4 separate regions of the Homo sapiens genome follow, and regions 1, 3 and 4 are each reported to be linked to region 2. The links are microRNA targets in miRTarBase. Many come from high-throughput screens and were not tested one by one. Region 2 holds a microRNA gene; each other region holds the end of a gene's coding sequence. Distances are from middle to middle.
Evidence for each region. Region 2 holds the annotated microRNA hsa-miR-6742-5p (AGUGGGGUGGGACCCAGCUGUU, at 1,370-1,391, opposite strand). A microRNA usually pairs through its seed, bases 2 to 8, with sites in the 3' UTR of a target mRNA and lowers its output. Matches are read on the target gene's strand: a 7mer-m8 pairs with bases 2 to 8, a 7mer-A1 pairs with bases 2 to 7 and ends in A, and an 8mer does both.

Region 1: the mRNA of CYP2W1 is a reported target of hsa-miR-6742-5p. Seed matches in the 3' UTR shown: 8mer at 583-590, 7mer-A1 at 640-646 and 7mer-m8 at 949-955.
Region 3: miRTarBase lists TCF3 as a target of hsa-miR-6742-5p. Seed matches in the 3' UTR shown: 7mer-m8 at 1,492-1,498 and 7mer-m8 at 1,497-1,503.
Region 4: the mRNA of KLHL12 is a reported target of hsa-miR-6742-5p. Seed matches in the 3' UTR shown: 7mer-A1 at 861-867.

What each region holds. Positions count from the first base shown.
Region 1 is chr7:988,314-995,837 of GRCh38, forward strand. CYP2W1 (cytochrome P450 family 2 subfamily W member 1) reads left to right here. Exons shown (of 9, transcript NM_017781.3): 8 at 1-105; 9 at 322-1,327. The coding sequence ends at 509. It also overlaps a transcript of CHLSN not described here. Among named protein-coding and RNA genes, the nearest start is that of CYP2W1, 8.9 kb to the left of the region's middle. RefSeq lists silencers at 75-144, 4,754-4,843 and enhancers at 454-1,054, 7,379-7,428.
Region 2 is chr1:228,395,714-228,398,713 of GRCh38, forward strand. MIR6742 (microRNA 6742) reads right to left here and starts at 1,396; the gene lies at 1,335-1,396. TRIM11 (tripartite motif containing 11) reads right to left here. Exons shown (of 6, transcript NM_145214.3): 4 at 1,430-1,452; 5 at 1,234-1,334. TRIM11-AS1 (TRIM11 antisense RNA 1) reads left to right here. Exons shown (of 3, transcript NR_199157.1): 2 at 1-93; 3 at 1,030-1,254.
Region 3 is chr19:1,604,024-1,611,922 of GRCh38, reverse strand. TCF3 (transcription factor 3) reads left to right here. Exons shown (of 19, transcript NM_003200.5): 19 at 74-2,631. The coding sequence ends at 216. UQCR11 (ubiquinol-cytochrome c reductase, complex III subunit XI) reads left to right here and starts at 6,461. Exons shown (of 3, transcript NM_006830.4): 1 at 6,461-6,563. The coding sequence starts at 6,514. RefSeq lists enhancers at 3,252-3,321, 3,352-3,401, 4,884-5,505, 5,961-6,270 and silencers at 6,331-6,590, 6,641-6,710.
Region 4 is chr1:202,889,865-202,892,864 of GRCh38, reverse strand. It overlaps KLHL12 (kelch like family member 12), which reads left to right. Exons shown (of 12, transcript NM_021633.4): 12 at 206-1,745. The coding sequence ends at 332. Among named protein-coding and RNA genes, the nearest start is that of RABIF, 2.2 kb to the right of the region's middle.

The sequences.
Region 1 (7,524 bases), not on the chromosome of region 2:
TGGATGAGACACAGTGGCAGACCCCAGGCCAGTTCAACCCCGGCCATTTCCTGGACGCGAATGGGCACTTTGTGAAGCGGGAGGCCTTCCTGCCTTTCTCTGCAGGTCAGCAGCCCTCGGGGCCGGGGTGGGGCGGCACCTCCAGGGCTCCAGGGGTGGGACGGCCCCAGCTCCGCCTGCCGCCTCTGCACCCACCTCCTGATCTCAGGTTCTGAAGGCGGCTGTGGTGGCTGCTCCTGTGCTCCCCTGGGGAGGTCCCCACCCCTCCCCTCCAGGAGCAGGCCTGGTGCAGCCCACTCTGTGCCTGGACATCCCCCGCAGGCCGCCGCGTCTGTGTTGGGGAGCGCCTGGCCAGGACCGAGCTCTTCCTGCTGTTTGCCGGCCTCCTGCAGAGGTACCGCCTGCTGCCCCCGCCTGGCGTCAGTCCGGCCTCCCTGGACACCACGCCCGCCCGGGCTTTTACCATGAGGCCGAGGGCCCAGGCCCTGTGTGCGGTGCCCAGGCCCTAGGAGCTCCCCCAGCCCCCAGGTCCTCCTGACCACTCCCCTCCCAGCCCTGGGTCCTCCCACCCTCTCTCCTCCCACCCCACAGCTCGGACTGCTCTGGGAGGGCCCTGAGGACTCCCACCCTCACCCCCACCCCCACAGGGTCAGCAACTGCTTCCGGTTACACCCAGGACTACCCCTGCCCGACCCTGTGGGACCCCCACCCCTCTGATGCTGTCTGCAGCTCAGTCCCTGCCAGCCCCCAGGAGCGCCTCCAGGGCCCCGCCCACTCTCCCACCCCTGAAGCTGCACTCCCACCCACCTAGCTCCCCCCAGGGCCCCCCAGCACCTACAGCTGGGGCTGCAGGGAGACAACGGGTGGCTGCATCCAGCCAGAGACAGGCGCAGGTGGGTGTCCTCAGCGTGCGAGCCCTGCACCCCCCAGGTCCTGGGACTCCTGCAGACCCCACTCCATTCCCGCTCCTGGAACACTTCCTGCAGCTGTGCCTGGAGGCAGTCGGCCTGCAGTGCCAGACTCTGAGCCAAGCCACTGGGGCCATGCGTATGACTGGTGCAGGGAGGCAAGGCCCACATTCTCCTTCAGAGACAGGCACTGGCGCCAGAGGCTTCCTTGGGGCGGGGGGAGGGCACCTCAGCCCCTGAAGACAAGCAGCACTGCAGTGGCAAAAATGGAAACACTGACCCGGTGCGGTGGCTCATGCCTGTAATCCCAGCACTTTGGGAGGCCGAGGCAGGCGAATCACGAGGTCAGGAGTTCGAGACCAGCCTGCCCAACATGGTGAAACCCTGTCTCTACTAAAAATACAAAAAAATTAACCGAGCATGGTGGCACGTGCCTGTAATCCCAGCTACTCAGGAGGCTGAGACAGGAGAATCGCTTGAACTGGGAGGCAGAGGTTGCAGTGAGCCGAGTTCGCACCACTGCACTCCAGCCTGGGTGACAGAGCGAGATTCCATCTCAAACAAACAGAAGGAAATGTCGAGCCACACAGTGGCACATGTGCTGGGGGCGGTGTGGTCGGCAGTGTGACAGTGGCACGTGTGCTGGGGGCGGTGTGGTCGGCAGTGTGAGTGGCGCGTGTGCTGGTGGCGGTGTGGTCGGCAGTGTGAGTGGCACCTGTGCTGGTGGTGGCGTGGTCGGCAGTGTGAGTGGCGCGTGTGCTGGGGGCGGTGTGGTCGGCAGTGTGAGTGGCGCGTGTGCTGGGGGCGGTGTGGTCGGCAGTGTGAGTGGCGCGTGTGCTGGGGGCGGTGTGGTCGGCAGTGTGAGTGGCGCGTGTGCTGGGGGCGGTGTGGTCGGCAGTGTGAGTGGCGCGTGTGCTGGGGGCGGTGTGGTCGGCAGTGTGAGTGGCGCGTGTGCTGGGGGCGGTGTGGTCGGCAGTGTGACAGTGGCGCGTGTGCTGGGGGTGGTGTGGTCGGCAGTGTGACAGTGGCGCGTGTGCTGGGGGCGGTGTGGTCGGCAGTGTGACAGTGGCGCGTGTGCTGGGGGTGGTGTGGTCGGCAGTGTGACAGTGGCGCGTGTGCTGGGGGCGGTGTGGTCGGCAGTGTGACAGTGGCGCGTGTGCTGGGGGCGGTGTGATGGGACACCTGCTGTCTGAGACGGCCCTGGCCCCCGTCCCAGCGCTGACCATGCACGTGAGCGGCAGGCGGCCCCTCACCGAGAAGAGAGGATAAGCCGTGGCACATTCCCACCTGCGCCACGTGAAGCGGCGCCCCAAGGCCAGGACGTGGTGGCCGGGACACACGGGTGCACGGCAGGCCTCACACTCCCAGGTGGGGCCGCAGGGTCCCTAAGTCATGGGTGGGGCTGCTGCTACGGAGGCTGCTGCAAGGACGAGAAGGGGACGGAGGGATGGAGGCTCGGCTGCGTCCGCTCACCTATTTCTGGGGAAGAGCAGGGAGCGAGTGCTGGCTTCACTATTCTCCCCTCAGACATTTGAAATATGACACTGAAAACTTGAAGGGCAGAAAGAACGGGGTCCTGGCGCCAGGTGGGGCCACGCGACGCCCCGCCCAGTGTGACTGGTGAGCCCCTCTGGAGCTCTGGAGGGTGCGGAACATTCCAGGGCAGGGGCTGTGGAAAATCCCTCCCAGCTGTTGTCAGGGCTCCCGGGTGGGGTGGAGGACTCAGGCCCAGCCCTCCCAACCCTACAGGGGACCCTTGTGCCCCCAACTTAGTCGGCCTCCTGGGTGGGGTGAAGGACTCAGGCCCCGCCCTCCCGGCCCTGCAGGGGACCCTCGGGCCCCCGCCTTACATTGGCCTGGGGTATTCATCTCCTTGGGCCCAGGGGAGCCCGAGGCCCACGTGGGGAGGAAACGCTGACCCTGTCCCGCCCCGCTTCATGGAGGCCCAGCCGACATGAGGGACACCAAGTACAGGGTGATGAGTGACGGCTGAGCTTCCCCTCAAAGCACTAAGACAATAAACATAACCCCAACCCCAACCCTGACCCCGCTCGCCCGACTCACGCGACCTCTCACCCCATCTCACCCAGCGAGATGACAGGGCTCCTCCACGGGGTACAGCCAGGGCCCCCCAAGTTAGGCGGTCCAAATGCCTCATCCTCAAGTGTAAACAAGCCTAGCTTAGTGAAAACAGAGTAAGCAGGTATCAAATCTCCTTTAACTCATGCCCATGGGCGTGGGCAGGGGTGTGGGGCGGGCAGGAGGGAAGGGGGGGGCCGAGTGAGACCCGAACCCCGGAGGTGCCACCTTCTCGACCGGGCAGACCTGGGTGCCCGTTTCTCACAGCTGCACTCAGGCTGCCGGCCAGGTGCACAGGCACGTCCCGGGGGCTTGCTGGGAAATGCCGGGGCTTGGCACGGATGGGACAGGCCACTGTCTACGCCTCATTTCCAAGTGTTTCTTTGTTGCTATTTTTAAAAATGGTGATAAAATACACGTAGAGAAAATTCACCATCAGCCATGTTGAAGTGCACAGTTCAGGGGCACAGGCACATTCACGGCCACCACTGTCACCTCCAGAGCCTCCTCATCTTCCCGGGCTGAAGCCCTGCTTGCGTTAAACACCCACTCCGAGTCCCTCCCCAGTCCTTCTCCTTCCTGGTCTGTGGGTGTGAGGGCTCTGGGGACCTCGAGTGAGTGGGGAGTGGTGGATTTGTCCTGCTTTATCCACGCACCTGCCAATGGGTCCTTTTCAAGGGTCCCAGAGAACTCAGGCAGCAGGCAGCCCGCGAGCCCAGCTTCCTCACGCATGGATTTCGGGAGATGCCTCTGTGGACATCCACCCCATGGTGCCCAGATGTCATGGGAGAGGCAGACACCCCGAACCCCATGGCTCACGACGTGGCTGAACTGCTCCCCGGACGTCTGTCCTCAGCAGCAGGAGGGACGCCGACCCCGGCCCCTGTACCCCCCCGCCTCTAGGTCTCCAGGGAAGGACCCTCCTGGGGTGGGCAGGCTGCTCTTGGCCCCAGATCTGCTTCTGGGTCTGAGGCTGGCCCTCAGCCGTGCTGCACGTGCCTCCCATTACCATCCTAAGTCAAGGCAAAACAAAACCACACAGTCCCCGAGCCATCTGCAAACCTCCCGCAGCAAGCTCGGAGGGTGAGGCCCCCCCACAGTAAGCTCGGAGGGTGAGGCCATCTGAGTGCCGGGCTGGCCGGGCTTAGGAGGAGACCAAGCTTTACCCACGGAGACGCCGTTTAATGGAACCCAAGTGACCCAAGGGAGCTGCCACGCCACCGCTCAACCACACCCACAGGGAACACACATGTAGGGGCCTGGGGCCTTGTCCAGTGCGGGGGTCCTGGTTCAGATGTCCTGAAGCTCCTCCCTCGGAGTGGGCAGCCCCCATTAGGAAACTTCTGGAACCCAGAGGCTGGAAGCCGGCCTCACTCTGGGACCTGGGCCCTCCCCGTGATTGCTGGGGCTCCCTCAGAGCGGGGGTCTTCTTCCCACCTTGGATGCTGAGGGGGAAGGAGGTAAGACACTGGAGGGCTGGGTGGGCTCACCAGGCTTCAGAGGGCAGTGGGACTTGGACAGCTCAGCCTAGCGCCCAGCTGTCTCTCCGGGCAGGTCTCACAAATGCCCCGAGGCAGGCCCATCGCTGGCCAAATTCCCCACCCCTCCTGCCTGGACTCAGTCCCTTGTGAAATCTAAGCAAAGTCCTAGGGTGTCTGAGGTCAGAGTGCATCGGGTAGCTCCTGCTGCATAACAAGCGGGGGAGGGGGTGGCCCATGGCTCTGGACTGCTGGGCCACAGGGGTGATGAGGTGAGGCTTGGAGGAGTCTGTAGGATCCTAACTTTGATGACTATTCAGGGTTTGAGGCTGCACTCAGCTTTATCGCCTGTGAAACCCACGCAGCCAGCAGGGGTACGAGTGCTTCTGAGGTCCCAGTGGGCGGGGGGTGGCCTGACCCAGACAGGGCAGGGGGACGGCAGCTGGAGCGCGTGGAGAGAGCGCCCGTTCCCTGGGAGCCACTGGAGGGCGCATGGCACACGGCGCCCGGCCAGGGCCTGACTGTGACTGGAGCAAGAGCCGAGGGACTGGACGGACGGCAGGTGGCGCCACCTGATCTGTGCAGGGACAGGCAGGGACAGGCAGGCAGAGAAAGAGCCCAGCTGGAGGCTGCCAGCGCTCCAGGGAGAGGAGTGGGGAGCGGACAGCGCCGGCCCGGGCTGGAAGGTCAGCTTGAGGCTCTGGGATGTGAACACTGGGCACCGAGTCATCCAGAAATAAATCCCAGGCACGGTGGGAGGCCGGGGTGGGAGGATCGCTTGAGCCCAGGAGTTTGGGACCAGCCTGGGCAACACAGTGAGGCCCCCCGCTTCTACAAAAAATACAACAATTAGCCGGGTGTAGTGGTAGCAACTGTGTTCCCAGCTACTCAGGAGGCTGAGGGAGGAGAATCGCCTGAGCCCAGGGGGGTGGAGGTGGCAGCGAGCAGAGCTCATGCCACCGCACTCCAGCCTGGACGACAGAGCGGGACCCTGTCTCTAAAAAGATGCCACTCTCTTGGGGGCTTGGAGGGAGGACAGTGCTCTGAGGGTGATTCAGCGGCCGAACCTGTGTCACTCTTGGTGGAGTGAGCAGACGGCACTTGGTGTGAGCTGTTTCTCAGACATCAATCCTGCAAGAAACTGCTCAGAGGCCGCTTCCTCAGAGGGCTGGGTGGGCTGGGGCAGGGGACGGTTTCCGGAAGCCGCACAGTGCTGTGAGAGGTCTCCAGCCTGCTCTGCGTGTTCGCACCCCCAATGTCAGGGAGGGCCCTTTGGCCTGGAAAGCCCAGTCTCCACAGGTCTGCTCACCCCCACAGGCAATGTGATTCTGACTTCCAAACAATGCTCCCTTTGATTATTTAAAAACATTACTTTTATTTTTATGTATTTATTTTTTCAGACAGAGTCTCGCTCTGTCACCCAGGCTGGAGTGCAATGGCACGATCTCGGCTCACTGCAACCTCTGCCTCCCGTGTTCAAGCGATTCTCCTGACTCAGCCTCCTGAGTAGCTGGGATCACTACAGGCGCCCACCACCACACCCAGCTAATTTTTGTATTTTTAGTAGAGATGGGCTTTCACCAGGTTGGTCAGGCTGGTCTCGAACTCCTGACCTCATGATCCGCCCACCTTGGCCCCCCCCAAAGTGTTGGGATTACAGGCGTGAGCCACTAAATTTAGTGCTCACCGCACTAAATTTTTTTTAGATGCCGGCTCTTGCTGTGGTGTAATCACTGCTCACTGCAGCCTTGACCTCCCGAGCTCAAGCCATCCTCCCACCTCAGCCTCCCGAGTAGCTGTGACTTCAGACACATGCCACCATCCCCGGATTTTTTATTTTTTGTTGGGGGGCAGTTTAGCCATGTTGCCCAGGCTGGTCTCAAACTCCTGAGCTCAAGCGATCCTCCCGCCTCTGCCTCCCAAAGTGCTGAGTTACAGGTGTGAGCCGCCGCACCCGGCATGAGTTATCAGTGTGTGGCTTGGTGTTTCTGACACCTGCACACACTTGCATATCTACTGCAGGGGACATTTCTCCCTGAGCTCAGCCCAGATGTGCTTTGTCACAGCCCATCGCTTATGGCCTTGGACACATGTAAAGAGAAAAGCACGCATGCCCACGCTAAGTTTGGCCCCTCACTTGGCACAAATCTTGATCCGCCACCTGGCTTGCTGCAGGTCAGCAGCTGCCCTCTCCACAGTGAGGAGCACTTGCCGAGGGACAGACGTGAGGGACGGACGTGAGGGTCGTCTCCAGGCTAAGGCGGGGCTTCCTTAGCCGGAGGCTTCCTGGCTCAGGAGTCCCGCACAAGCGCCAGCTGAGACAGGGACTCACAGCCCGTTCTCTGGCACACACAGCCCCAGCACATGTGGCCCGACGTGGCTGGCCCCTGGGGTTGCATGGGCGGGTGCCCTCACTGACCTGCACGGGGTAGGGAGACCCCAGGGCATTGCGTGGTTCTCTGAGCCACATTCCAGGTGACTTCTCTGCGCCACCCTTCGGCATCTTTCGCCAGGGAGCCCTGAGGAGCTTGGCACCTTACGATCCACAGAGGTGGGAACCCCTGACAGGAGAGCACTCCCCAGCCGGTGTCAGGGGAGCATCTGTGCTGTCGAAGGGAGGCCCAGGTCTTCAAGACCTTTTCCCACTAATGGTCGGTGAGGACTCAGCAGTACCCACCCCATTTCCCTTTCTGACTCGGCTGCTGGGAAGCTCAGAGCTCTGGTTCCGGATCCATCAGCCCTGCCTTCTGGAGGCTGCTGCCCCTTCTTTGCACTTTGCGGGTCTCCCTCTGCTGTTTGTTTAAGGTGCCTCACAGCATAGGGGCCACTGAGCACCCTGACTGCTGGGCTGAACACGGACCCTTCCCAGCAGCTTCTCTGCAAAGCTGTGCTGCCAGCAGCCGGATCGCAGGCACCGCCTGGCAGATCTGAAGGTTCGTGCTGTGCAACGTGCCTTCCTGTTTGTGAGTTCACCTGACCGACACCAGGAGGGGCTGGACTCCTCGCCTGCCGCCGGCAAGGCCCGCCCTGGGCCAGTGGGGTGCACACAGCAGGCCCTG
Region 2 (3,000 bases):
TGGGAGTCTTGCTATGTTTCCCGGGTTGGTCTTGAACTGATGGCCTCAAGCAATCCTCCCGCCTGAGCCTCTCAAAGTGCTGGGATTACAGAGGTGAGCCAATGCATCCAGTCTGTTTTTCCTTTCAATCTCCAAATGAAGGATGTGAATTAGGGCAGCTGTCCCAACCCTGACCACTCCGATTTCAGATCTATCCACCTCTGGAGGCCTGCACACAGTTCCTACACAACAGGCTCCTGACCTGCTAGCAAGAGCTGAGGATAGTACTTCCTTTGGGTGACTGTGATACAAGACTCAGATTTGGGTTTTGTGCCCAGTTCCTGGCGCAGAGCTCACAGAACCCTGGGAATTTCCTGACTGATAGAAGCATCTTGTGCTATCATAAGATGCCCCTTTCCATCACACCTGAGTTGATGCCACTGCAGTGGCTGAGGTGGGGACCTGAGAGCCCAGCATAAGGCCAGCCACCAGAAAGACCAATCCTGTCAGTAGAGGGCGGGAACACTCAGCCCCAGCCTCTGACCTCAGGAAGGGGAAAGGGGTCTGAGGTTGAGCCCCATCACCAATGACCAATGATTTAATCAATCATAACCATGTAATGGAACCTCCACAAAGACACCTAAACAGCTCTTGGGGCTCAGGGAGTTTCCAGGTTGGTGAGCACACTGAGGTGCTGGGAAGGTGCACCCAGGGAGGGTGGGAAAGCTCTGAGCCCTTCCCCAGGCTTTGCCCATGTGTCTCTTCCATTTGGCTCTTCCTGAGTGGTATCCTTCACAATAAACCAATGACAGTAAGTAAAGTGCTCTTCTGAGTTCCATGGGCTGTGCTAGCGAATGCTCACATCTGCAGAGGCGCTGAGGGAACAGAAGTATGGGCAGCCCCTGGAAGTTGTGACTGGCATCTGAAGTGGGGGCAGTCTTATGGGACTGAGCCCTTAATCTGTGGGGTCTGTACTAACTCCTGTAGTGTCAGCACTGGCAATTCTGTTCAATGCTGAATGGAATCCTTGGATACCCAATTCGTTTCCAGAAGTTGAAGAATTGTTTGGTGTGAAAATACCCACACAACTGATGTCAGAAGTATGAGCAGAGGACGTTTTCCCAACAACCCACCACCATGACACTGTGAGTTTGGAGCTGGCAGTGGCAGGGCACAGAACACGTGGCTGGCTGCCCAGGTCCTTGGCAGGTCCCCTCCTGGAGTCATCTCCCCACCTGGGGCCTCCACACCTACCTCGAAACCTCCGCAGTGTCTCTACCAGTCCCGGGACCCTGCACACGGTCCTCAGCTCCATAGGCACAACTTCTGGGGGCTGCAGCTTCACATCCTGGACCCTAGAGGGGACAACCCAGGTGTTGTCGCCATGGCCAACAGCTGGGTCCCACCCCACTCCCTCCTGCCCCCCCTCCAGGAGAGGCTGGGTTCGTACCTGCGCAGGGCGTCCTTGATGTCCTATGTGGGGAGGAGAAACAGCACACTCGGTGTCAGTGACCATCGCTTGCTCCTGGAGTCCCCTCCCCGCCCCTGGAGCCTCGCCCCGTCCCCCTCTCCTACATTTGAGCGTCAGGCAGCAAAAACACACACAGGGGGCCATAAACCACCCGCAGCAAGGCTCAGACACAGGAATGCTGGACAGAGGCTCTGACATGTGTGCCAGGAGGCATCACCAATGGGGTGCAGCCCAGCCCTGCGGACCAAGGCCCACTTCTGCCTGACACTTGGATGTAGGGCATCTGGCTGTTGGCTCACTCACCCAGAGCCCCAAGTGGGCGCCTCTGGGTGCCAAGGACAGGACAGGCACACATCCCAGCCTTCAGCATAGGGGCACCTCCACCCCAGCTGGAGCCCAACCCTGTGGTTGCACTGCTTCCTCTCCCAGCTCCACCTGCCCTGCAGGCTCCCTGCTCAGCCCCACTCTTGGGCGTGCGTCCTTCCTGTGTCACTGCCTGATACGTGATAGCATCTGACTCCATGTTAGGGCCCGAATTGTGTCCATCCCGCCAAATCCGTATGTTGAAGCCAGAAACTTCAGGACTTCAGAACTTGACTATTAGAAAAAAGGGCTTTTAAAGAGGAAATCATAGTAAAATGAGGCCATTAGGGTGGGCTGCAATCCAAAATAACTTGAGTCTCATAAGAAGGGGCGACTAGGACACAGACACCCACAGAGGGGAGACCCTGTGAGGATACAGGGAAGAAAAGGCATCTACAGGCCCAAGAGATAGGCCTCAGGGGGAACCAGCTTTGACCTCAGTCTTCCAGTGTGCAGGACTGGGAGACAATCAGTCTCTGCTGGGGAAGCCTCCTGGCAGGTGGTACTAAATGTGGCAGCCCGAGCTGGCGTGATACACCCAGGTATTGGAACATCAGCTCTTAGGAGACACGGTCTTGTATCTCTTAGAGCAGTCTTCAGTGCACTGCAAGGATTTAACCCACACTGTCAAATAGACGATCCCACACCATGTTCATTCTAACACACGTGGTGCCAGCTACCAGGCCAGGATGCAGAGGTCAGTAAGACATAATCCCAGACAAGGGTTTCCCTACATGTAGGAGAAATGGCAAAGGAAGATTTCCACACATACGGGTAGTTAATTCTGTCTAGGGGGACAACAACACACTCTAGGCCCCAAAAATTTTTTAAAAAGGAGGCCAGCACTTTGGGAGGCCAAGGCAGGCAGATCACTTGAGTCCAGGAGTTCAAGACCAGCCTGGGCAACACAGCAAGGTCCCATCTCTAAAAAAAAATTTTAAAATTAGCTGAGCTTGGTGGTGTGTGCCTACAGTCCCACCTACTCAGGGGACTGAGATGGAAGGATCGCTTCAGCCCAGGACATCGAGGCTGCAGTCATAATCACATCACTGTACTCTAGCCTGGGCGACAGAGTGAGACCCTGTCTCAATAAATAATTCATAAATAAATAAATAAAGAGGAGACTCTTGGTAGGGTTCTGAAGCCCAAGAAGAATTTGTTGGTAGACACAGGGGGAGTGCGCAGGG
Region 3 (7,899 bases), not on the chromosome of region 2:
ACCCCCCACTCCCACCTCACATCTTTCTCCTCCCTGGGACCGTCTCCCACAGAGCTCTCCCCCCTCCCTCCAGAGCGGAACCTGAATCCCAAAGCAGCCTGTTTGAAACGGCGAGAAGAGGAAAAGGTGTCAGGTGTGGTTGGAGACCCCCAGATGGTGCTTTCAGCTCCCCACCCAGGCCTGAGCGAAGCCCACAACCCCGCCGGGCACATGTGAAAGGTATGCCTCCGTGGGACGAGCCACCCGCTTTCAGCCCTGTGCTCTGGCCCCAGAACGGCCACTCGAGACCCCGGGCTTCATCCACATCCACACCTCACACACCTGTTGTCAGCATCGAGCCAACACCAACCTGACAAGGTTCGGAGTGATGGGGGCGGCCAAGGTGACACTGGGTCCAGGAGCTCCCTGGGGCCCTGGCCTACCACTCACTGGCCTCGCTCCCCCTGTCCCCGAATCTCAGCCACCGTGTCACTCTGTGACCTGTCCCATGGATCCTGAAACTGCATCTTGGCCCTGTTGCCTGGGCTGACAGGAGCATTTTTTTTTTTTCCAGTAAACAAAACCTGAAAGCAAGCAACAAAACATACACTTTGTCAGAGAAGAAAAAAATGCCTTAACTATAAAAAGCGGAGAAATGGAAACATATCACTCAAGGGGGATGCTGTGGAAACCTGGCTTATTCTTCTAAAGCCACCAGCAAATTGTGCCTAAGCGAAATATTTTTTTTAAGGAAAATAAAAACATTAGTTACAAGATTTTTTTTTTCTTAATGTAGATGAAAATTAGCAAGGATGCTGCCTTTGGTCTCTGGTTTTTTTAAGCTTTTTTTGCATATGTTTTGTAAGCAACAAATTTTTTTGTATAAAAGTCCCGTGTCTCTCGCTATTTCTGCTGCTGTTCCTAGACTGAGCATTGCATTTCTTGATCAACCAGATGATTAAACGTTGTATTAAAAAGACCCCGTGTAAACCTGAGCCCCCCCGTCCCCCCCCCCCCCCGGAAGCCACTGCACACAGACAGAACGGGGACAGGCGGCGGGTCTTTTGTTTTTTTGATGTTGGGGGTTCTCTTGGTTTTGTCATGTGGAAAGTGATGCGTGGGCGTTCCCTGATGAAGGCACCTTGGGGCTTCCCTGCCGCATCCTCTCCCCTCAGGAAGGGGACTGACCTGGGCTTGGGGGAAGGGACGTCAGCAAGGTGGCTCTGACCCTCCCAGGTGACTCTGCCAAGCAGCTGTGGCCCCCAGGGCTACCCTACACAACGCCCTCCCCAGGCCCCCCTAAGCTGCTCTCCCTTGGAACCTGCACAGCTCTCTGAAATGGGGCATTTTGTTGGGACCAGTGACCCCTGGCATGGGGACCACACCCTGGAGCCCGGTGCTGGGGACCTCCTGGACACCCTGTCCTTCACTCCTTTGCCCCAGGGACCCAGGCTCATGCTCTGAACTCTGGCTGAGAGGATGCTGCTCAGGAGCCAGCACAGGACACCCCCCACCCCACCCCACCATGTCCCCATTACACCAGAGGGCCATCGTGACGTAGACAGGATGCCAGGGGCCTGGCCAGCCTCCCCCAATGCTGGGGAGCATCCCTGGGCCTGGGGCCACACCTGCTGCCCTCCCTCTGTGTGGTCCAAGGGCAAGAGTGGCTGGAGCCGGGGGACTGTGCTGGTCTGAGCCCCACGAAGGCCTTGGGCTGTGCGTCCGACCCTGCTGCAGAACCAGCAGGGTGTCCCCTCGGGCCCATCTGTGTCCCATGTCCCAGCACCCAGGCCTCTCTCCAGGTCTCCTTTTCTGGTCTTTTGCCATGAGGGTAACCAGCTCTTCCCAGCTGGCTGGGGACTGTCTTGGGTTTAAAACTGCAAGTCTCCTACCCTGGGATCCCATCCAGTTCCACACGAACTAGGGCAGTGGTCACTGTGGCACCCAGGTGTGGGCCTGGCTAGCTGGGGGCCTTCATGTGCCCTTCATGCCCCTCCCTGCATTGAGGCCTTGTGGACCCCTGGGCTGGCTGTGTTCATCCCCGCTGCAGGTCGGGCGTCTCCCCCCGTGCCACTCCTGAGACTCCCACCGTTACCCCCAGGAGATCCTGGACTGCCTGACTCCCCTCCCCAGACTGGCTTGGGAGCCTGGGCCCCATGGTAGATGCAAGGGAAACCTCAAGGCCAGCTCAATGCCTGGTATCTGCCCCCAGTCCAGGCCAGGCGGAGGGGAGGGGCTGTCCGGCTGCCTCTCCCTTCTCGGTGGCTTCCCCTACGCCCTGGGAGTTTGATCTCTTAAGGGAACTTGCCTCTCCCTCTTGTTTTGCTCCTGGCCCTGCCCCTAGGTCTGGGTGGGCAGTGGCCCCATAGCCTCTGGAACTGTGCGTTCTGCATAGAATTCAAACGAGATTCACCCAGCGCGAGGAGGAAGAAACAGCAGTTCCTGGGAACCACAATTATGGGGGGTGGGGGGTGTGATCTGAGTGCCTCAAGATGGTTTTCAAAAAAATTTTTTTAAAGAAAATAATTGTATACGTGTCAACACAGCTGGCTGGATGATTGGGACTTTAAAACGACCCTCTTTCAGGTGGATTCAGAGACCTGTCCTGTATATAACAGCACTGTAGCAATAAACGTGACATTTTATAACGATGCCCTGCAGTCCCCGGGTTCTTTCTGGTGTCACATGTTTAGGAAGGGAAGTGGGGGGGGGCCCTGACGTTCACCTCGGGTGCAGCAAGGACCGTGGTCCACCCTGTGCACTGGGCTTCCTCGAAGCGACTCCTCACTCTGAGGAGCCCATGGCTCCCAGGGCGGCTGGGAACCTGCATGTGTACTCAGGGCTCCAGGCCACCTGGAAGCAGGATTGGCTCCCGGGGAAAAGCAGCTCCCTGGGGGCTGCACTTGGGCGCGTAGGAACCATCCAGGACCTGCGGTCCTCCCAGCCCCCATCTGGGAGGGCTCCCCATCTCCCAACGTCCCCCCCCCGGGCTGTTGGAACCCACTTCCCTGCCCCTTCCTGCTCCGAAGTCGGCTCGAAGTCTGAGTCTGTCACTGCTCCTCTGAAACCTTCCACGGCTCCGTTGCTGGCAGCGTCAACCCCACACTCCTTAGTGCGGCATCTGTGACTTCCTCCACAACCGGATGCCCACGGAACCCACGGACAGAGCTCTCGGGGGGAAGGGGTGTGGCAGGACCTGTGGGGGCGCTGCTCATCCCAAAGTGCCCACTGGCAGGCATCTGCTGCTGTGCCCAGGGACTTGGCCGCTGCATCTCTGCGAGGACACAGCTGGACTGCCCTGCTCCCCTACAGGGTTGGGGTGGAAGGAGTGCCTTCCTGGCCACTTGACGGGGGGTGGCCCCCAGGAGAGAGCCCTTTGGCACACAAGTGCCTTAGGGAGGAGAAGGCTCAGCACAGTGACTCATATCTGTAATCCCAGCACTTCAGGTGGCTGAGGCGGGAGGATCGCCTGAGGCCAGGAGTTCCAGTCCAGCCTGGGCAACATAGTGAGACCCCATGTCTATAATTTTTAAGGGAAAGAGAGTGGCCAGGAGTTGACAGAAGGTGCTGAGGGAGCCCTGTCCACCACTCTACCCAGCTGGCCTCTAAATTCATGCTGGAAAACAACTTTTAAAATATACATTGGCCGGGCGCGGTGGCTAACGCCTGTCATCCCAGCACTTTGGGAGGCTGTGGCGGGTGGATCACTTGAGGTCAGGAGTTCGAGACCGGCCTGGCCAACATGGCGAAATCCCATCTCTACTAAAAATACAAAAATTAGCCGGGCATGGTGGCGCAAGCCTGTAATCCCAGCTATTTGGGAGGCTGAGGCAGGAGAATAGCTTGAACCCAGGAGGCAGGGATTGCAGTGAGCTGAGATTGCACCACTGCACTCTAGCCTGGGCGACAGAGCGAGACTGTCTCAAAAAATCAAAATTAAATTGGTTGTACCTGGTGACACACACTTGTAGTCCCAGCTACTTAGGAGGTTCAGGTGGGAGGATCGCTTGAGGTGGCAGTGAACTGTGATTGCACCACTGCACTCCAGCCTGGGCAACAGAGCCAGAACCTGTCAAAAAAAAAGGGTGGGCCAGGTGCAGTGGCTCATGCCTGTAATCCCAGCACTTTGGGAGGCCAAGGCGGGCGGATCACGAGGTCAGGAGATCGAGACCATCCTGGCTAACGGTGAAACCCCATCTCTACTAAAAATACAAAAAATTAGCCAGGCGTGGTGGCGGGCACCTGTAGTCCCAGCTACTCGGTAGGCTGAGGCAGGAGAATGGCGTGAACCTGGGAGGCGGAGCTTGCAGTGAGCCAAGATCATACCACTACACTCCAGCCTGCAGCCTGGGCGACAGCAAGACTCCGTTTCAAAAAAAAAGGGTGGAGGGGACATCCAGATGGTCCAACAAAATAACAAAAACCGGCTCAAGAAACAAAAAGGAAGTTCTATGTCATGTTGAATGGCTTCAGGCACAGCTGGATCCAGGTGTCATTACAAATCTCTCTCCATCTCTCAGCTCTTGTTTATGTCACTGTCTCTGATGAACTCTTTTTTTTGTCTGTTTGTTTTGAGACGGAGTTTCACTCTTGTTGCCCAGGCTGCAGTGCAATGGCGTGATCTCGGCTCACCGCAACCTCTGCCTCCCGGGTTTTCAAGCAATTTTCCTGCCTCAGCCTCCCGAGTAGCTGGAATTACAGGCATCCGTCACCATGTCCGGTTAATTTTGTATTTTTAGTAGAGATGGGGTTTCTCCATGTTGGTCACGCTGGTCTCGAACTCCCAGTCTCAGGTGATCTGCCCGCCTCAACCTCCCAAAGTGCTGGGATTATAGGCGTGAGCCACCGTGCCCGGCCACTGGTGAACTCTTACATTGTGGCATCTGGAAACTCTGGGCTGACATTCCAGCAGCCCTTGTGTTCCTGTCCTTTCTCTTAATAGTCTCTGTGTCAGCCCCTGCATCCCACTTTTTTAAGTTTCCACCAATGGGAAGAGTCTTATTCAGGTGCTCTCTGATCCCAAGCTCAAAAACCCCAAGCCAACTGGAAAGTTCTACAAACAATGCCCAGGGCCGGGCCCGGTGGCTTACACCTGTAATCCCAGCATTTTGGGAGGCGGATCACTTGAGGTCAGGAATTCAAGACAAGCCTGGCCAACATGGCCAAACCCCATCTCTACTAAAAATACAAAAACTAGCCAGGTGTGGTGGCTCACGCCTGTAGTCCCAGCTACTTGGGAGGCTGAGGCAGGAGAAGCTTGAACCCGGGAAGCGGAGGTTGCAGTGAGCCGAGATCGTGTCATTGCACTCCAGCCTGGGCCACAGAGCGAGACTCCGTCTCAAAAAAAAAAAGAAAGAAAAACAGTGCCCAGACTGTGGTGTCCAAAACCTATTTCCGGCTCCCACCCTGAGTCCTTAACCAGGGATAGGGATGGGTTAGCACCCGCAGTCCCCAGAGAGCTGCAGGCTTGGGGTGTACTGAGGGGCTGACCCCAGGAGGACAGGCCAGGCTGGGCAGAAGAACCCACGGTGTCCATTCCTTATCACGAGGCCTGCAAGTGACGCTGGCGCCCGAGAGACAAATCACGCCCAGTGCCCCGTCTAGGCTATGGCCTTTCCGTTCATGCTGTAAAGGTGCCTGTGGGTCAGGCAGTCCAGGAGGGCTTCCTGAGGGAGGCAACTCTTGAATATGGGGGAAAAGGCACAAAAGTGCAATGGCGGTGTCTGGGAATATGCCCCTCTTCCTTCTGCCCACACCGGCCCGGTGTGCAGGGGGGAGGCTGGAAGCTGGGAGCTGAGTGAGCATGTACGGTGCTGCGCCGGGTTGTGGGAGAGCAGAGGAAGCAGGGACTGGAGAAAGGCGAGCCCAAGCGAGCCTGGTGCGGTGGAAAGCAGGAGGCAGAAAGACCTGCCTGTCATCAGCTAAGAGCATCCAGAGACGTTCACCGAGCAAGGAGCCAGGCCACCCTCTGCTGCCGGAATGAGGAATAACCCAGGCTCGCAAACGGAATCCTGCAAAGAGATTTCCGACAGGGCCTCCAAGCAACGGGCAACGCTGAGGCTCAGGGAAGCACTGCCGCTCGACCAAAGTCCTACAGCGAATCAGGAACAACGCCTGACGCCTCCAAAAGTGGGCTCCAATCCCAGCTCTTCCCCTCTGTGTGACTCTGAGCAAGACCCTTCCCCGCTGGACCTCAGTTTCCTTCATTGTAAATAACGTTCTGGCACATACTAGGCGCACAAAATCACTGGCAGGTAGCCCCGCGGAGCCCAGAAGCACAATCGGCCGCCAGACCACGTGGCCAGAAAGCACCGCCCTAACGCCGCCCACTCCGGACCACTTCTCCGCGGTCGTCCAACCCTCGCCGGAAGTTACTGTAAGTGGCTTCCGGGTCTGCGCGCACAGTGGCGGATGATGTTTTTTTTTCCTCCCCCCCCCCCCGCCCTCCCCGCGCGCGTGCGCGCCGCGGCCGCGCCTGCGCAGTGTAGCCGGGTCAGCTGGACAGGGTCATCCTGAGGGTGCGACTCCGCCGCGATGGTGACCCGGTTCCTGGGCCCACGCTACCGGGAGCTGGTCAAGAACTGGTGAGGACGCCGACCCGCGGCCCCATCCGCGCTCCCGCCTCGGCCCAGCCCCGCGCCGCTGCGTTCCGTATTTGTGCGCGTTTCCGGGGGCCGGGCCGGGCCGGGCCCAGGTCCCTTGTTGTTCCCGGTGACAGAGGGGGAAACTGAGGCCGAGAGGCGGAGCGGCGCGTCCCGGCGTGAACGGGACGTGACGGACCCAAGGCCAAACCCCAGCATGCCCGGCTCCGCGGCTAGGCCGCTCCAAGCCTCAGTTTCCCCATCTCTACCGGGGGATCCGAATGGTGACCCCCTGGACGGAAGCGCCCAGAAGGTGCCGAGTCCCGATCCCCAGCCCAGCACTCGCGGCATCTTCGGCCTTTGCCACTATTTTGGTTTTTATGATTTTTAACAAGGAGCGTGAAAGCTTCAGCTGCGCCTGAGCCCACGTGGGCAGCGGGACGGCATAGGGGTGGCCCCCATAGAAGCCGGGCTGGGGGTGGCCTCCGTAGGGTTGTCTGGTGTTTCCACGTGGGGTGCTAAGAAGCAAGGCCTGGCTGGGTGCGGTGGCTCCCGCCTGTGATCCCAGCGCTTTGTGAGGCCGAGGCAGGTGGATCACCTGAGGTCAGGAGTTCGAGACCAGCCTGGCCAACGTGGTGAAACCCGCGTCTCTACTAAAAATGCAAAAATTAGCCAGGCGTGGTGGCGGGTGCCTCTAATCCCAGCTACTCGGGAGGCTGAGGAAGGAGAATCGCTTGAACCCGGGAGGAGGAGGTTGCAGTGAGCTGAGATTGCGCCATTGCACTCCAGCCTGGGTGACAGAATGAGACTGTGTCCCAAAAAGAGAAAAGAAAAAAAAAGCAGCAAGGTCTTAGCCGGGTGCAGTGGCTCCGGCCTGTGATCCCAGTGCTTTGGGAGGCCCAGGCAGGAGAATCACTTGAGCCTGGGAGTTCAAGACCATCCTGGACAACACAATGAAACCCCATCTCTACAAAACAAAAAATTATCAGGGCATGGTGGCACCTGTCTGTAGTCCCAGCTACTGGGGAGGCTAAGGTGGGAGGATCGTTTGAGCCTGGGAATTTGAGACCAGCCTGGGCAACACAGCAAGACCTTATCTCTACAAAAAAATTTAGAGCTGCTGGGCGCAGTGACTCACGCCTGTAATCCCAACACTTTGGGAGGCCAAGGCGGGCGAATCACCCGAGGTCAGGAGTTTGAGACCAACCTGACCAACATGGAGAAACCCCGTCTCTACTGAAAATACAAAATTAGCCAAGTATGGTGGCGCGTGCCTGTAATCCCAGCTACTTGGGAGGCTGAGGCAGGAGAATCGCTCAAACCCGGGAGGTGGAGGTTG
Region 4 (3,000 bases), 26 Mb from region 2:
TGGAAAGGAATAGAAGGCTAATTTCTTTCTTTCTTTCTTTAAATTTTATTGAGACAGGGTCTCACCATGTTGCCCAGGCTGGTCTCAAATTCCCTCCTGGGCTTAAGCAATCCTCTTACCTCAGCCTCCTGCATAGTTGGGATTACAGGCACGTGCCACTGCACGCAGCTGACTCATTTCTTTCTTTTGCTTCTTTCCCACTCAGATATGATGGTAATTCCCTGCTAAGTAGCATTGAATGTTATGACCCTATCATCGACAGCTGGGAAGTCGTGACATCCATGGGAACCCAGCGCTGTGATGCTGGTGTTTGTGTTCTCCGCGAGAAGTGACCATTGTTGGAGCACCATCCAGAGCTAGTGACCAGTCCAGTGGACAGTTAGTGGGAGAATCAAAAATCCTTTCCAGAATGTCTGTTTCTCACTATGTGCACCGGGTGATTACAGGCACCAGTGCAGTGATGATTGTACTTATTTGACACATACTCCCCGTCGTCCTGGTTCTTGTTCCTGAGAAGGGTGGGTAACAGATATTCCAGGAAAAAGAATGCACATTGAATGGATGTGAGAGACCACATTGCCTCTCCCACTGCTTTGGGGAGCACTTTCCTGTCATTTCTAACTTACCACATGCTTGGTGTACTATATGTATGTTGTGCCTCATATGTTGCAAAGAACTAAGGTGAGTATAGCCTACTAGATATGGGCAATATCCAGCCTAGATGATTGGAAAGATACCAGTTTAAGTAAACTTGGTAAAATCCAAGTCTTTTTTTTTTTTTCCAGGAACAACTACATTTTCTCATATACAGGTAGCTAGGGGCAACACAGTTCCATTCTAGAGGGAAACAAAAGGGAGAGCCCCACAAAACTTTGGGGACAAGGGAGAGAGAGACTCATCTGACACTTCTTTTGGAGGTCAGGATTTGTATATCAGAATTGAAGTTAGAATTAAGTGAATTAAACTGAATTTGATTGTGAGTGAACCTAGAACAGCACTGAAGTATTACATAACCTGGAAGACTGAGAAGGGTATATTATTTGAAGGATCTTTTTATTTCCCCGAGGTCTTTCGCACTGGAGACAGCATAAAAGAGTGAACAAATGTTGGGATGAGAGAAGATGACATCAATGTGGGAGTTCAGTATAACTGGGGATAAACTAGAAGAACCTGTGATTTTACAGTCATCTTATTACCTGCCAGGGCTCATCTAGCCATGGCAATGTTTGCCTTGAATGGGGGTGAAAGCCTTTCTTTGTTGGATCAAATACTACTACACTATTACACTTCCACACTATTTATTTGGGGATGGGCTGGGAGTGACAGTAGCCTAGTAGTTCAGCTACCTGATTACTGCCCCATTCTTTTAGAAGCACATGTCTGCCAAGGAGTGGTTTGTACTGCTGTGTTTGGTACATCTAGTCTTTTTTCTGCTATAAGTTTTCCTTACCTGTCCTTTAGTGTAGATTTTATTCATCACAGGACAGAATAATCAAGGACAACCAAAATCCTTTTGTTAGTTTCAGTACCTCAGCTATCAACATTTCTGAGCTACCATTCAATGTTCCTCTGTGTCATGGAGTGAAATTCTTGTTTTGTGGGTATTAGGAGTGTGGGAATGTGATAACCTAAACAACCTTTGCTCTGAAATTCCATTTTTCCCTCTTTCCCTGAGTTGTATTGACCTACAGAGTTAATTTCCTTTGTATTTTTTTAAGAAAATATTAAAAATCAACGGTCTCAAATGCCGAGAGTTTGTGGCTAACCAACATTGCCTTTAGTAGATATTTGGGAGGGAAAGATGTAGGGATCAGCCGTAGCTCCTGTCTCTTCAAGCTGTTCATCTTGTGTGTTTGCCAACTAGTTCCGCTATTTCTATGTTAGACACAGGTAAGAGGTAGCCACTTTACACTTTGGAGATTCTCATCAGTAAAATATTTACCTGATTTGCCATATTCATTAGCCCCTCTGACGCTTGGAGTTACTTGAAAAAGGAATACAGAAAAGATCTTGAATTCACTTAGCACGCGCTTGAATTTCAGGGTTTCAGTCACACCAGTCCTTTTTTCCATTTGCTTTGAATTGTGGCATGTGATATAAACAGCTATGCGGAAGGCCTGCAAAACTGAAACAGTCCTGATGCTTCCAGAGCAAAAGGAAGGAGGAGCCACATGAGGAAGTTATTTTCCTTAAAAGATGCCTACCAACTTTGGCAGATGGATTGTGCATGCTAATTAAACCAAAGCCTATAAAACGTGACTTTTCCTATCTCAGGAAGAGATCCAGGGGAGGGTGAAGGACTGATGGCTCCTATGCTGTCTTCAGTGCTGACTAATGAGTTTCAGACCAACTTCACAAATAGTTCATACACTGAAGCCACAATGGTATGTTCTACAGAAAAATCAACACGTAAAACAGCTCCTTTTTCACTCTTCACAATCGTACACACTTTCATGTGCTCACATACATACACAGAGATACCCCTAATTTGGTGGTTCATCTTATTTTTTTAAGCTCCCATAACTGGCAACCAGCTACTTAGTTATCTAACCTGGGAAAACCAGCAGTTGCTTTGTGTCACCCCCATCACAATACAGACATCCAGCTAGTTTCTAAGTTCTGTACAATTTTAATTGTTTCAAGTCCATTCCCATATCTTTGTTCCCTCTGCTAGCTTCAGGGCCTTTCTGAGCTAGACTGATGAGGTAATAGCTACCTGATACCTTACCTCTACTCTTTTTCCTCTCTTCAATCTAGCCCCTCTATTTATTCATAGGTTATCTTTCTGAAGCACAGATAGGATCATTACAGTGCTTAACATACAGCAGACAGTAAATATCGAACAGTTATTTCTGGCCTAAAATTCCACAGATTCCCATTGTTCATGTTATTAATGTTAAATTCCTTAGCATGACATTAAAGCCATGGAGCTCTGGGCCCACTCTGCCTTACCTACCTCTACTACCACTTCTCCCCACGTGTAATGTGGGTCAGCCACAG